2 separate regions of the Homo sapiens genome follow, and region 1 is linked to region 2. Evidence: fine-mapped expression QTL. Tissue or cell type: whole blood. Region 2 holds a variant in brackets; the other region holds the start of a gene. All regions are shown on one strand. Distances are from middle to middle.

Region 1 (8,000 bases), 25 kb before region 2:
GGATTCCAGGCGTGAGCCACCGCGCCCAGCCGGATCCTGGCCTCTTCATGGTGCCCGCTCCTCAGGGTGTCTGCACGGGGTGGGCTCACCACCCACCTGGGGGGGAGTGTTGTTTCGAGTTTGGAGCTATTAAAATGAAGCTGCCGGCGAGTGTGTGAAGTTTTTATTTCTCTGAGATGAATGCCCCAGAATGCCACTGCTGCCTTCCACGGCACCTGCATGTTCCAATTTTTAAGGAACTGCCAAGGGCTCTCCAGGGGGCCGCACCATTCCGCAACCCCCGCAGTGCATGAGGGACCAGCTGTGGCTGTTTAAATCCTGGCCATCTGGACAGGCGGTGGCATCTCCTTCTGCTCTTAATTCACAGCCCACCAGCAAACATTTTACACTGTATTTACAAATGCGTATGTTCTAACTCGTTTGCAAACACTTTGAATTAACAAAATCTTCCCCACTAAATCACTGATATACCTCCAGACTCGTTAAACATATAGTTTGTTCCTAAAATCTCTTAAGTTTTCCAAGACCCTACATAAATGCAGTAAGATTCCACTTACACTACAGAGCCTAAATAATTTCCTCATTTGAAAGATGATTCAGTGGCAAAGCCGACCCTCTCTCAGGACAAGTTCTCTTGAGCATTATGAATGCCGGGCTGGGCACGGCAGCTCACACCTGTGGCCCCAGGTGCTGTGGGAGGCCAAGGCAGGAGGATCCTTGAGCCCGGGCGGTCGAGGCTGCAGTGAGCTACGATGGCACCACCGCACTCCTGCCTGGGCGACAGAGCGAGTCCTCATCTCAACAAAACATCCCGCCCCTACAAAACCCCATGCATTACAAACATAAGATGGTTCTATTTTAATACAAAAAATATTAGTGCACAGCTTTTTAGTTCCCCAACCTTCCCATACTGCACCTGAAGTCTCTGGGGAGGAAAGTGCTCCCTTTCGGGGACACAAACAGCCCGGTTGGCAGAGGTGGGGTCCCTGGTGTGATCTGTGGGCACCTGCGACTTACGATGCTCCCCTGTGGCTTTCAGACCTAGCATCCCTGCTATAACCTGAGGATGGGATTCAGCCCGTGTGGCCCTTAGGGGAGTAAATGTCGTTTCTGTTTTAGTCTAGAGATTGTCCTTCAACTTGATGCGACCCTACGGTGTCCTTATGTTTCCACCTGGCCTAGTGGAATCCTGCACCCTTTCGTGTTCTCGGGAATGTGCACCCCGTGCGGTTACTCAGGAGGGAGCCTCCAGGGACATCTCGCATGGCCTCGTCTCCCTTCCCCAGGGAGAGGACGAGCTATCCACTGCCCGCCTGACAGACGAGGGAGTGCCCAGTGCCCAGGCAGCTGCTGTCAGGTTGGCCCACGCCGGCAGGGGCTCTGCTCCCAGAGATCAGGTGGGTGCTGGTCTCAGAGCACAGTTCAGCAGGTGCTGGGTGGGCCCTGTTGGGGCCTGCAGCCCGGGCCCGAGGCACACACACATGCACTGCACGGCTTCCCGCAGCTCCAGGACTTTGCCTTCTTCCCTCTGACAGGGGCCAACGTGTAGAGAGGTGCAGACCACCATGAGTGACGGAACAAGGGGCGGGGACACTTGTGGACCAAGCTCCAGCATAAGGACACGGTCACCCAGGGCCACAGCCCCAGGCCAAGCCGAGGGGTAGGGACTTGACACTGACACAGGCAGCTTCCGCAGCTGTGAAACCACCCGGGAAACGCTGGTCTTCAGGAAATAGTCAAGAAAGTGGACGCCAGGCATGGTGGCTCACGCCTGTAGTCTCAGCACTTTGGGAGGGCCAGGCGGGAGGACTGCTTGAGCCCAGGAGTTTGAGACCAGCCTGGGCAAAACAGACCCCCGTCTCTACAAAAAAATAAAGAAATATGTGTCAAGGCATGGTGGCACACACCCGTGGTCCCAGCTACTCTGGAGGCTGAGGTGGAGGATCGCTTGAGCCTAGGAGGTCCAGGCTGCAGTGAGCCACGATCATGCCACTGCATCCAGCCTGGGTGACAGCGTGAAATCCTCTCAAACACAAAAAAACAAAAAGGAAGTGGAAACACTGGCTCAGCTCCACAATGAGTTGCCGCAGACGGCAAGAGCCTGTGGCACAGACTGGACTCCGAGAAGGGGACCGCGACTGTGTCCTCCCCGTGGTCCTCAAACGTCGCCCAGGCCAGGTTCCTCTTAATGGGACCGACACAGAAGCTGCACGTCCGCGGGCGCATGGCCGGAAACCCTGCAGCTGTCAGCGAACCCCTGGTGCTGGGCGCCCACGCCCAGGTGTCCCACGGCCAGACACTGGTGGCATCAACTCCTCCAGAGGCCCTGAGGGAACCCTGGGATGGACCCTCAGGCGAACACTGTCCCTCTAAAGAGAAGACACAAATGTGACTTCCCCAGCTGTCCCCAATACTGTTTACAAAACATCCTCACGCTGTTAAGATGGGGGCTTTATTTCCATTGAAATCTCTGGCATTTAAACTTGGGATGGAACCCGGAGGCGGCGTCCATCAAGGAGGAACAACCCCAAGGCGCATGCAGGACGGGCCTGGGAGCTCCCGGGAGCAAGGGAGCTGGGGGGTCTGGGGGCCTGGGAGGTTGGGGGGTCTGGGGGGTTGGGGGGTCTGAGGGGTTGGGGGTATATGGGGGGTTGGGGGATCTGGGGGTTTTGGGGGGTCTGAGGGGTTGGAAGGGTCTGCGGAGGTTGGGGGGGGCCGCGACACCTGCAGCGCCCCCCCACCCTGCGCGCTGGCCCAGCTAGGAGAGGGCCCGGGGACACCGACAGGATTGAAGCCTTTGATGAGCGGACGGACGTCCCCAGTTCCTTCGGGGAGCTCCTTTAAACATGTTTGCCGAAAGCTGCGGGCGCCGCGGGACGCACAGAGCTGTCTTTTCTCCGAGGGTGGCTCAGAGGCAGAGCCCCGGAAAAACCCACGCGCCCGGCCTGTGGGGCAGCGACGCCGCCCAGACCCCGGGGCCGCCGAGACTCACGGGGGAGCGTCCTGAGACCGCAGAGCCCTGACCCGTCCGAGAGGCGAAGCCCCGGGAGCCCTCTGGGTCCGAGCCGTCCCAGTCCCGCACCCAAGGCAGGGTCTCTCCCGCCGCGCTCCGACACCGGCCGCCGAGGTCCCAGCACTGGCGCCGGCCGCGGACCTGGGGCGCATTTGGCGGCGGCTCGCGAGGCGCTCGGGGCGCTCCGTGGGTCTGGAGGGCGCTGGCCCCGCGCGCCCGCGGCCAAACCTGGTGCAGCCGCGCCGCCTTCTCCGATGAAGCCGAAGCCGCCCCGGCCGCCCCCAAACGCTCCGCCTCCGCCTCCGCCTAAACCGGCGGAACGCTAAGGACGCCGACGCTTGTGCGGTCGCCCGGGAGACCCCGACGACGCCCCGCCCCGTCTCCCGGCAACGCCAAGCAGCCGGCGCGCGAGGAATCCGGGGGAATGTAGTCCCTCCGTGTCAGGGACCCGAGACATGCGCTGGTTCTTCTAGGACTACATTTCCCAGGGCGCTTCGCGCCCCGCCCCGGCGCCCCACCCACGGCCGCGCGCGATGGTACCACCAGGCGAGGGCGGCTCTCGCGCGGGCCGCCGGGAGTTGTAGTTTTCTTTGGGAGCTGCGGGGCCTGGCGCCGGGGCCGGGGCGGAAGAAAGACTACAAGTCCCAGGGGGCGCGGCGCCACCGCCTGAGGGCGGGGTGTACGAAAGAGAAACCCGGAGGGCGCCGGGGTGAGTGAGGGGCTGGGGGCAGGCGTGAGGGTAGCGGGTTGGGGCGCTGGGGTCCGTCTGGGCGGCCGGGTCGGCGCAGGGAGTGCGAGAGGCAGACAAAGGTCGGCGGCCCTGGCCCGGCCCGAGGGACGTTCCCTGCGCGTCCCCCATTGTGCGGCGCGCGGAGGAGCCGCCAGCGCCTGGGCCCGCGTCCTCGTCGCCGCCTCCCAACGAGCCTGGCCGCGGTCCTATGGGGGAAAGGCGCCCGGGCTGAGCGGGACGCCTGGGGAGGGGAAGGGGCGTCTGAGGAGGGCAGGGGGACCCCGGGGAGGGGTGGGGAGGGGGTCCCTAAGGAGGGGAGGGGGTTCCCGGAGCGGGGAGGGGGGGTCCCTGGGGAGGGGAAAGGTTCCCGGGGCAGGGAAGGGGGTCCCTGGGGAGGGGAGGGGGTCCCTGGGGAGGGAGGGGGGTCCCTGGGGAGGGGAAGGGTTCCCGGGGCAGGGAAGGGGGTCCCTGGGGAGGGGAGGGGGTCTCTGGGGGAGAGGGGGCACCTGGGGAGGGGAGGGGGTTCTCGGGGCAGGGAGGGGGTCCCTGGGGAGGGGATGGGACGGGCGCCCGGGGGAAGAAAGGGGGCGCGTTCGCCTCGCCTTCCCGGCAGCCGGGAGTGGGGGCACCGGCGCGGTCCCCGGTGTCCTAGAAGTCGGCCACGATTCAGGTCTTTTTCCCGCGAGGCTTTAGGATTTGTTTTTGTCCGTTTGTCACCTGGAGTAGCCGAGGGCTAGTCGGGGTGCAGTTTTTCGGGAGCGCGTGTTCCGGTGGCAGCGAGTCGATGATTGAGTTTGGGTGTAATTTAAGCCCAGGTGTTCGGGGGCATTTCTTACCGCGTTTCAAAGCAAACGCGGCTTCTTCCCCGGGAACTATTTTGTGGCTGAATTCTTAGCCGCCTCGTCCTGTTAAATTTCAGGATGTCAAACTTGGCCTCCTTTTTTTGGTTTTCATTTTTCTTAGTATTACCAGGGTGTGCAGAGAAGGCAGAGCTGCGTCTTCCTCTTTTATTTTTCCGTAAGTTACTGGGGTACAGGTGGTGTTTGGTTACTTGGTTACATGGGTAAGCTCTTTAGTGGTGATTTGTGAGATTTTGGTGCTCCCATCACCCGAGCAGTACGCACTGCACCCTATTTGTAGCTTTTTATCCTTGTCCCCCTCCCACCCTTCCCTCCGAGTCCCCAAAGTCCAGTGTATCGTTCTTAGGCGTCTTCCTGTTTCCTGATGGCTTAACCTGGGAAACCCTCGCAGAGGGAGCCGGTTTTGAGCCCCAGGGTAGGGGCGGCCGCCTGGGATGTTCAGTGATGCGCCTGATTACTCAGGTTTATGTTCCCCGTTTGCATTCAGCCAGGATCCGTCATGGCCACGTTGTTTTTAACATACATGTTTATGAATTATACAGAAACGTTGTTTTCCTGACACACATCCCGCCCCCAGTACTCCTCCTAAAAGCCAGTCAGGCAGGTGTTTCCACACGCAGTCACCTCAGCCCTGGGGTGCACAGGCAGCATCCCGGGAACCCCTGAGATACCTCCCAGCTGCTCCCTGCCTTGCGGCTGCTCTCCACCTGAGCTTTGACTTACTGGGTAGCTCATTTAAAGAACAGCTAGCGCTGTGGGTGCTGGGGTGGGAGATCGCTTGAGACCAGTCTGGGCAACATAGGGAGACCTCGTCTCTATAAAAAATAAAAAATATTATCCAGGCATGGGGGCAAGCACCTGTGGCCCGTTACAGTAGGTAGCTAGTCAGACATGAGCAGGGCAGAAGAGGGGCCCCCCTCTACCAGGGACATTTGGCTGGTAAGAGAAGGCGGCCCTGGCTGTGCGCGGTGGCTCACACCTGTAATCCCAGCACTTTGCAAGGCCGTGGGGGGAGGGGGGCGGATCAGAAGGCCAGGAGTTTGAGATCAGCCTGGCGAATATGGTGAAACCCCGTCTCTGATAAAAATACAAAAATTAGCCGGGCATGGTGGCGGGCGCCTGTGGTCCCAGCTACTCAGGAGGCTGAGGCAGGAGAATCGCTTGAACTCGGGAGGCGGAGGTTGCAGTGAGCCGAGATTGCGCCACTGCACTGCAGCCTGGGTGACAGAGCGAGACTCCATCTCAAAAAAAAAAAAAAAAAAAAAGGCCTCGAGGGAGCGTGCGCACAACTCCAGTAAACTCTGTGCATGCTCCCTCCCAAGTGCCCGCAGCCGCTGTGCGGGTGGACGGCCCACCCCGAGGGAAGAATCGGGAGACGTAACACCCCGGAAGCCTCCAGCGTGGAAGACCCTAAGTCAAAGGTCAAACTGCGCACTTGATCTCTCAGGTCTCCTGCCTGGCCTTCTTCCAAGGGCGCTTTACTTCCTTTCATTCCTGCTCTAAAGCTTCTTCATAAACTGTTGCTCCTGCTCTAAGGTCTCTTCTGCCTCCTACCCGTCCATCAAACTCTTCTGAGGAGGGAAAAATTGAGGTTCACTGCTGCTAACATGCTTTGGTGTCAGAAGTGGGACATATTCTGCCACTAACAGTCCCAGCTACTCGAGGGACTGAGGCAGGAGGATCGCTTCAGCCCCGGAGGTGGAGACTGCAGTGAGCCGAGATCGCAACGATGCACTCCAGCCTGTTTCACAAAGAAAAGAAAGAGCCACCTCTTCTCACCACTCTGGCTGAGGGTTGCGTGTGCCGAGGTGGAGTGTGGAGCTCAGGTGAGCCTTCAGAGCTCTATTACTGGCAGAATGTATCTGAGTTTCAGCACCAAAGTATGTCAGCAGCGGCCTCGATTCTCGCTGCCTCAGAAGAAAGAATTTGATGGAAGGACATGAGGCTGAAGGAGAGACTGAGGCAAGTTTTTTTTTTTTTTTTGAGATGGAGTCTGTCTCTGTCGCCCAGGCTGGAGTGCAGTGGCACAATCTCGGCTCACTGCAAGCTCTGCCTCCCGGGTTCATGTCATTCTCCTGCCTCAGCCTCCCGAGTAGCTGGGACTACAGGTGCCTGCCACCACAACCGGCTAATTTTTTGTATTTTAGTAGAGAAGGGGTTTCTGCATTTTGGTCAGGCTGGTCTCGAACTCCCAACCTCAGATGATCCACCCACCTCAGCCTCCCAAAGTGCTGGGATCACAGGCGTGAGCCACCGCACCCCACCGACTAAGGCAAGTTTTAGAGCAGGAGTGAAAGTTGTTGAAGAAGCTTTAGAGCAGGAAGGAAAGGAAGTACCCTTGGAGGAGGGCCAGACGGGCGATGTGAGAGATCAGGTGTGCGGTTTCACCTTTTGACTTGGGGTTTTATAGCCTGGCAGGCTTCTGGGGTCTTGCACCCCTTCTCCCCTGATCCTTCTTCAGGGTGGGCTGTCCACCCATGCAGCATCTTGCTAGTACTTGGGCGGGAGCATGCGCCATGTGTTCCCTGGAGGGAGGGAGCATGCCCGGTGTGTTCACTGGAGGGAGGGAGCATGCCCCGTGTATTCACTGGGGGGAGGGAGCATGCGCTGTGTGTTCACTGGAGGGAGGGAGCGTGCGCGTTGTGTTCACTGGAGGGAGGGAGCATGTGCCGTGTGTTCACTGGAGGGAGGTAGCATGTGCCGTGTGTTCACTGGAAGGAGGGAGCATGCGCTGTGTGTTCACTGGAGGGAGGGAGCGTGTGCGTTGTGTTCACTGGAGGGAGGGACCGTGCGCCGTGTGTTCACTGGAGTAGTGCCCATGCTCACCTGAGGCGTTCTTCCGTTACCTGTCAAACGTCCCTAGAAGGTCATAGAACGGTTACACGCCGCCATTTTGCCTCTCAGTGCACACGCTTGAGCCAACTCGCCCAGTTCCTGAGATCGTATCGGGAAGCTGCCCATCACCGGATTTCATGTGTTTTCTAGCTATTGGGAGCCTGTCTTTCCCTGGCGCTGGGTGCAACCAGTTCTTTTAGACAGTTAACAGCCACCTGACCATCACCTGATGGTGGCCTGACATTCCCGGTGGGGGGATGGGCCCGATCCTGCCCTGCTCACGTCTGCTGAGCCACCTACGGCAACCGCCCGACTCCGGTGTGCTGAGCCCACGGGTAGGTGGGCAGCGACTACCATGCATGTCAACAAAGGGGGATGTCTCCTTTACACCCCATCAAGGGGTTTGCGGTATTTGTTTTCTATCAAAGCACGAGAGGGATCTTTAGGTAGAGAGGCCCCAGACAGTTCTTATTGGGCCCTTAAAGCTACGTTTCACGTTGGCTTCCTTTGCTTGCTACGAAGATGACCAGCATTAGCTACACGGATGCAGTGGAAGCTCCAG
Region 2 (8,000 bases):
AAAGGAAAAATGGATGCATTCAATTTTATTAAAAATTTCATTAAAATTAAAAACATTTGCTCTTCAAAAGATGTCCATAAAAAAATGATAAGACGGGGGCCGGGCAAGGTGGCTCATGCCTGTAATCCTAGCACTTTGGGAGGCCAAGGCAGGCGGATCACAAAGTCAGGAGATCGAGACCATCCTGGCCAACATGGTGCAACCCCGTCTCTACTAAAAATACAAAAAATTAGCCGGGCGTGGTGGCGGGCACCTGTAGTCCCAGCTACTCAGGAGGCTGAGGCAGGAGAATGGTGTGAACCCAGAAGGCGGGGCTTGCAGTGAACTGAGATCACGCCACTGCACTCCAGCCTGGGCGACAGAGACTCCAATTCAAAAAAAAAAAGATGATAAGACAAACCACAGGATGGAAGAAAATATTTGCAATACATAAGTCTGATGAAGAATATGTGTTTTAGCTGAGCGTGGTGGTGACGCACACCTCTAGTCTCAGCTACTCGAGAGGCTGAGGTAGGAGGATCACTTAAGCCCCGGAGGTCAACATGGCAGCATGCACCTGTAGTCTCAGCTACTCGGGAGGCTGATGTAGGAGTATCGCGTAAGCCCTGGAGGTCAAGGCTGCAGTGAGCCACGATCCCACTACTGCACTCCAGCCTGGGCAACAGAGTGAAACCCTATGCCCCCCACCCCTGCCAAAAAAAAAAAGGTATATGTTGCAACTCCACCCAATTAAACAAAATGGGCAGAAGATGTGAGTAGGCACTTCAGAAAGAAGATATATAAGTGGCTAATAAACACATGGAAAGATGCCATCATTAGTCTTCAGGGAAATGCAGATTGTAACGACACAGAGATACTCCTGCACATGCACGGACACCCTGCGTGCACCCACATCGCCAGTGGGAGGGTATACAGCACAGCCACTGTGGAAGACGGCTGCAGTTCCTTAGAAAGTTAAACGTGCACCTCCCTGTGAGCCAGCCACTCTGCTCCCAAGAGAAATGAAGACAGATGTCCACATGATGACATGTGCCAGGACCTTGGCCGCAGCTCCATCCAGTCACCAGGAACTGGGAGCAGCCCAGGCACCCACTGGCAGGTGATGGGCAAAGGCGGTGACGTTTGGCCAACACAGTGGAAAATCCTCCGACTGTGGAAAGGAAGAAAGTGCGGATAAAACAACATGGAAGGATCTAAAGGTCAGTGTGTGCAACCCCTTTGTGTAAGACCCTAGAAGATACAGCTGCAGTCTGGTCAGCTCCTGGCTGCCGGGAGCCCGGGCTTGTGGGGGCCGCAGCGAGTGCTGGCAGCTGTGTGGGACCGGGCACCGTCCTGGCTGTGGTGGCAGCTTCAAGGGGGTGGTCACACTCACCCGCTTGTGTACTTTACACGGATGTGGTTTATTGTATGTAAAGTAGATCTCCATGAAGTTGACTAAATAGCAGATGAAAGTGTTGATTGAAATCTTGGACTTCTGGTTCCTGAATCAAAATGATGTTTTGTGACTTAATGTGGCCCTCAGGATGCCCTTTAACCAGAGAGGGAGCAGAAGGGTCTGTGATGTCTGGAGTTTTCCACTGAGCAGGGGAAGACGGTCTCTGCTGGGCAAATGTTAAAGGGACAAAAGGACAAACTAAGACTTGATTGCACTCTGTGGGTGGGGCGAGCAGCATGTCTGTGACTTCAACACGTTCCATCTGAAAGGATTTCACATCAGAGAGGAGGAGCTGAATCAGAGGAGAGCATGCTTTTTTTTTTTGAGACGGAGTTCCCCTTGCACAGGCTGGAGTGCAGTCTCCGTTCACTGCAGCCTCCACCTTCTGGGCTCAGGTGATCATCCCACCTCAGCCTCCTGAGTAGCTGGGACCTCAGGCTCCCACCACCAGGCTCGACTAATTTTAAACTTTTTGTAAAGACGGGCTGTGTTGCCCAGGTGGGTCTCCAACTCCTGAGCTCAAGCATTCCGACCACCCCCACCTTCCAGAGTCCTCCGGCAGGCTCACACCTGGGCAGCCTGGTCAGTTTGTGAGGCCATGACCTGAATCCAGCATGGAATGGGTGACAGAGTGGACCGTCCCTGTGCGGAGAGTGGACCGTCCCTGTGCAGAGACTGGAGCTGTGTCCTCCAGGGCCTCCGTCTCCCTGCTGCTCACAGCCCTTGTCCCAGGACCCCGGCCTAGGCCCATCAAGAGGAGCCCCACAGGCCTGGCTGGGCCTCAGCCCCCCTCGGGGTAACTTGCCAGGGAGGCCCCTGAGCCAGTGCAGTGACACCACTTGAGGATTTGTGCGCCTGGCAGGCGTTTCCTCCCTTAGGAAGGCAGGGCCATGGTAACAGGTCCTGTGGCTGGAAGTGCAGGGGGGAGAGAGGGGGTTTGTGCGGGAGGACCGGTGTCCACCAAGTGCAGCCTGGGCCACTGAGCTCCGTACCTGGTCCCTGAGCAAAGGCCGGGCCGAGGGCCCGTATCCCAGCGAGGGCCTGTATCCCAGGCACTCTCACCCGCAGGAGGCCAGGAGGCCAGCTCGGGGGAAACACTCGTGGAGACAGCCCCTCCAGGACGCCCTGCTCGACAGCCAGGGGCCGGCAAGGGTGTGGACAGAGGGCCCGGACCGGACCCAGACCCCGCACCGTAGGCCACGGCCCACCTGGGTTGCCCTCGCGTGACCACGGCCTCACCTGCTGTCTTCATCTGCAGGACTGGGCCGGGGTCTGCAGGGCTCAGCTGAGCCCATGAGCTCCCAGAGCTAACCCCTGAACACCCAGGCGGGCAAAGGGCTGATGTCGGTAGTCCCCATCCTGGAGGGGCAGGTAAGGCCCTGCCTACACCTCGCCCCACCCGTGCCTCCAAAGGCCCCAAGCCTTCACTCTTTCACCCCACCTCCATTTGGCTCCACCTTCCCTGTCGTGGCCCTGCACCCCTGCCACGGCCCTGCCCCATCTCCATTTAACTCAGTCATCTGCCGCGGCCCCGCCCCACCCCATCTCCATTTGGCCCCACCCTCCCTGCCACAGCCCCGCCCACTTCCATTTGGCCCCACCCTCCACCACAGCCCCGCCCACTTCCATTTGGCCCCACCCTCCACCACAGCCCCACCCATCTCCATTTGGCTCTGCCCTCCTTGCCTTGGCCCGCACCCCCCCAACATCTCTTGACCCCACTTTCATTTGGCCCCACCCACCCTGCCTCAGCCCCACTCCATCTCTTTGGCTCCGCATGCTCCTCCCTGTGGCAGGCTCTGCGCATCTGCTCCTGGCATGGCGCTGCGGCACCTCGCCCTCCTGGCTGGCCTTCTCGTGGGAGTCGCCAGCAAGTCCATGGAGAACACGGTAGGTGCCCCCCTCACGTGTCCACGCGGCCTAAGCCAGAGCCTCTGTGGAGGGCGGTGGGCCCTTCCCCTAGAGGGTCTAACCCTTCCACCTTTAGGACACTGATGTCCCAGCCCCAGAGGTGCTGACCAGGTCCACTGCTGG[G/T]GTCAGAGGGGCCTGTGCCTCGCAGAGGGGAGCCCTCCGCTGCCTGCTGGGTGAGCGCCTGCTCAGGAATGGCTGGGTCAGGCGGGGCCCCCACGGTGAGGCATCCTGGCCCGCAATGGGAGCACCTCTGCCAGCGGTGACAGCACAGCGTGCCGCGCATCGCTATCGGGGAGTGTAGCTGCGGCGGCTCCAGACTCCCAGGCGGAGCGGGTGGAGGGTGGGGACCCCTCACTGTCCTGGCTGGGGCGTTTGAGGGACCGGACCTGGGCCCCTCCCTGGCGGTGTGGATTCTATCCCGCACTCCGCAGTCACCCCTGGACGCCCTCACCGTTCACTGCATTCAGGTCACGAGAAACAGCACAGCTGTGATCAACACACAAGCTGAGGGTACCCTGAGCCCCCCAGGCCTGTCCAGTCTGCCTGTGGTCAGGGAATGGGCCCTCACACACACCGTAAGTGCCAGCACCCAGCGCACCTGTGCAGTACCTGGGCACCTGGGCGTGAATTCGTCCCCTGAAATGCCAGCCAGGCCCGGGCACTTCCTCTGTGGGGTCAAGCGGAAACCCCTGATGGAGAGCCTCCGGAGACTTGCAGAGAATGTCGGTGGCGCTGCCATGGCCTGCGGGTGCCGCCTCCTGGGGGTGGTTTACTCTTCCAGGCCCAGCTTTTCCTTGGAGACCGCCCACCCAGGGTCCCACAGGGATGTGCACTGTGGCTGTGAGGCCCCTCCTTGCTCCCAGGCCCACAGGGGACAGAGGGCCACCCGATGCTGACTCCAGAAGAGGCCGGAGCTGCGGACATTGAGATGTGCTCCCACGGCACCCCTCAGCCGCTGCTGCTCTGGGCGTGAGCCTGCCTGGCAGGCGCGTCCTGGAGTTTCACTGCCGTGTCCCCTCCAGGCCCAGCTGCCCGAGTGCTGTGTGGATGTGGTGGGCGTCAACGCCAGCTGCCCAGGCGCAAGTCTGTGTGGTCCAGGTAAGCCGCTTTGTCCCAAGCAGATTCCAGACCGGCCCCTGAGCCACTGGTGTGTGTGTGCCCAGGGCCCTCCCCTCGGTGACAAGGACAGTGCTCATCTGTGCTGCGGGACCTGGGGAGTGGATGGGGCAGTGAGGGCTGTGGAGCTTGGGGAAGGACATCTGAGCCTCCTTTCTGGCGGGCGGCCTTGAGCGGCAGCCTCATGAGAAGACTGGCCCAGCAGAGGGCTGGGAGCAGAGGCAGGAGCTGAGATCAGAAAGGTGCCTGGAGAAGGGTCTGGGGGAGTGGCCCATGAGCTCAGCCATTCTCACGGGGCTGTCCTGGCTCCAGGGGCCTCTGGCAAAGCCCAAGACATTTTTGCCTGTCCGTGCTCGGGCAGAGGTGCTGCTGGCCCCTGGTGCGTGGAGTGGAATGCCAATCAACAGGACGCCACGAGGATGCCGGCCTGTGTCAGCGTGCCACGGGCAGGCCCTGTTCATCAGAGGTTCTGGGAGGCTGCGGAAGGGACTGTCTGGGGGCAGCTGGGTGTCAGGAGGTTGAGGCTGGTGAGGGCAGCCAGTGGGAGCAGCCAGGGGAGGGGAGGACAGAGTGAGAAGGTGCAAGGGCCACTCCTTGGCGGCCCTTGGTGAACTTGGGGCTGAGATGCCCCAGCTGTACCTCCAAGGGCCTTGGCACTCCCATCCTGGGGGTCCAGCCCTCCCATGATGGAAGAACCCAGAAGGGCTGCTCCTGGGGACTCAGGGGCCTCGTGAGGAGGGCGTGGTCAAGACGGCGGCTGTGGCAGCCAGTGAGGCTGGGCGCGGGGGTCCGAGGCTGGGCGTGGGGGTTGGGGAGCCCACAGGAAGGCAGTGATGACATCTGAGGCACACGCAGGGTAGGAGGAGGAGGGCACCGCTCTGAGGGAGAACAGAGGGGCTGGGAGGAAGCTGAGCACCTTGGGGTCCTCATCGTCTGATGCTGAAGCCCTGGTGGCTGGGTGAGAACCACTCCCCTGGCACCCCATGGCAGCAAGAGTGCTGGGGCCGTGGCGTCTCCTGTGAGGGATTGTGTACCCCAGGCACTCTGTGGGTGCAGGCAGCTGTGCAGCAGTCACGGTGCCCATGGAGGGGCCAGGCCAGCGGGTCGTGAAGTCCAAGGGCCGAGGTGGCCCCATGCACAGGCGCAGGGTGGGGACCGTCTGGCGCGCGTGGGGAGGGGCCGGGCCTGCGGTGTTGGATACGCTTCCCCCTGCGTGCGGCCCCAAGCCAGGTCACGTCTCCGCTCGGGGAGGCAGCGGGCACTTCTGGGGACAGTGCTGCGCTGGTGTTTGGCTCCCTGCCGTGGACTCCGTTCTTCGGCCTCCGGGGCAGAGACTCTCAGACAGAGCCTCGCTGAAGTCGCCCGAGCCCTGTGCCAGGAGATGCCGGGAGACAGAGGCTGCCCCCAGTGCTGGGAGAGCGCAGCTCCACCCTGGTAGGACTGAGCGGGTGGACTTCCATTCTTCCAAGAGGTGTGTCTGCAGAGTGACCCCTGTCACAACCGTGCCGGGGTCTCAGGCCCACTCTCCACCGCGGGGTCCCCGTGTCGCCGCGGCCCGTTTGTATTCAGATCAGTCTGTGAGGAAGGGTCGAGGCGTGTGGTCCACCCGTGGCCCGCACCAGCAGCCGCACCGCAGTCGGCATCAAGAGTGTGTCTACTCAGCTCTGGGCTGAGTGTTGGAGATATTTAGAAAGTCAAGGAGTAAAAGTCAATTCCTGTCCTTAAAGGCGCCCTGGCCGGTGGGCGGAAATGAGGCTTCAGGCGCAGCGTCGGCCTGGCGGGGGGATGAGGCTTGGTTCTGCAGGATCCCCCGAGAGAGACCCGGGGGAGGGTGCCAGGGTGTGGAGGTGACAGATGGACCAAGGGTCGGGATCAGCTTGGGGCAGGAGGCTGTGCTGCTGGCGGGTGGGCCTATCCTGCTTGGGCGGCATGAGGGAACACGGGGTGCGAGGCAGCCGCTCCAGGCACTGCAGATGGGGGTCTTGGGGGAGGCGTGGGGGGTCCTGGGGGAGGCCGTGGGGGGGTCCTGGGGAGGCGTGGGAGGGTCCCAGGGAGGCGTGGGGAGGTCCCGGGGAGGCGTGGGGGACCCTGGGGGAGGCATGCGGGGGTCCTGTGGGAGGCCATGGGGGGGGGGTCCTGGGGGAGGCCGTTGGGGGATCCTAGGAGAGGCGTGGGGGGGGTCTTGGGGGAGGCCTGGGGCAGGCGTTGCAGTGGGGGTTCTTGGGGAGTCTGTGGGGTGAAGGCTGGGTGGTGGAAGCCGGGCCCAGCCTGCAGTCCTGCAGAGCACGAGTCCCTCCAACAGGCCTGTTCATTCTGGATGCTGCCGCCTACCACTCTCTGAAGTACGCAGTGTGGAGTACTCAGGGTCGGGGTGCTCAGGGCCGGGGTGCTCGGCGTGGAGTGCAGCGTGGAGTACTCGGGGCTGGGGTGCTCGGCGTGGAGAGTGCAGCGTGGAGTACTCGGGGCCGGGGTGCTCGGCGTGGAGAGTGCAGCGTGGAGTACTTGGGGTCGGAGTACTCAGGGTCAGGGTGCGCAGTGTGGAGTACTCAGCGTGGGGTGCTCACGGCCCCGCCATGCTCCCTGGGGGTGTCCTTGTCTGCCGCCCACCTACCCTCCAGAGCATGTTAGTATCTGGAATGAAAGTTATCTCACCAACTCAAATAGAGAATCATTCCCAGGAGACCCAGCTGGTGTGGATTTTGCTTTGGCTGACATGCCCGTCCTCTGCCCCACGCAGGCTGTTACAGGCGCTGGAACGCGGACGGGAGCGCCAGCTGCGTCCGCTGTGGGAACGGAACCCTCCCAGCCTACAACGGCTCCGAGTGTAGAAGCTGTAGGTCTGCCCGGCTCCCCCCGGCTCCCTTCTCACAGCTCCAGCTGTGGGAGACACTGTGGGAGTTGCTGTCTGTGTCCCCACCTTGCCCCAGAGCCACTGTCCACTGGGGAACAGCCCCGGGAGCCCCCTCTTCCCGAGTCTGCTGGGCCATTCGGGACAGCTCTGTGGTGAGGGCTGCTCCGCCCCCTCAGCCCCTCGCTTTCATATTTCCGTCCTGAGATCCCTTCAGGGTGCACGTGGGTGTCCCCGTGGGCTCCGTGCACACAGGCTTCCCACAGTTCTGCTATCCCACAGTTGCTGGCCCGGGTGCGCCATTCCCCATGAACAGAAGCTCAGGGACCCCCGGGCGGCCACATCCTGGTAAGTCTCAGCAGGCCACAGCCACCTCTGCCGGTGTCCTGGGGGCTGGGGGCCGTCGGAGCCAGTGCAGACCCTCACCCTTGACGCAGCCACAGCAGGCTCAGGGTTCTGCAAAACAGCCAGAGGGGAGCGTGGCAGCCCCTGCAGCTTGGGGTCAGCTGGTGTGGGTGGGGGATGTGGGGCGTCATGGGGGGCTCTGCCACATCTCTAAAGGGCCGTAGTTAGGGGAGGCCCTGATGGCCACACCGCACTCTCTCAGGGTCACACAGCTCACAGCCACACGCTCTCAGGTTCACACTCATGGCTCACGGCCACACCGCACGCTCTTAGGTTCACACTTAA

What was found. PIP is the estimated chance that this variant, and not a neighbour inherited with it, causes the effect.
Region 1: C1orf159 starts here. The variant in region 2 is fine-mapped to the expression of C1orf159 in whole blood (TOPMed, PIP above 0.99). The same link has a PIP of 0.9 or more in T cells, aorta, blood mononuclear cells, breast, coronary artery and esophagus mucosa.

What each region holds. Positions count from the first base shown.
Region 1 is chr1:1,111,782-1,119,781 of GRCh38, reverse strand. C1orf159 (chromosome 1 open reading frame 159) reads left to right here and starts at 3,693. Exons shown (of 10, transcript NM_017891.5): 1 at 3,693-3,722. RefSeq lists silencers at 3,023-3,072, 3,113-3,232, 3,403-4,002 and enhancers at 6,979-7,273, 7,492-7,993.
Region 2 is chr1:1,086,797-1,094,796 of GRCh38, reverse strand. It overlaps C1orf159 (chromosome 1 open reading frame 159), which reads left to right. Exons shown (of 10, transcript NM_017891.5): 2 at 2,694-2,806; 3 at 3,232-3,325; 4 at 4,369-4,444; 5 at 7,200-7,295; 6 at 7,593-7,658. The coding sequence starts at 3,254. Among named protein-coding and RNA genes, the nearest start is that of RNF223, 16 kb to the right of the region's middle. RefSeq lists an enhancer at 1,802-1,851. The variant G/T (reference allele first, on the strand shown) is at 3,470.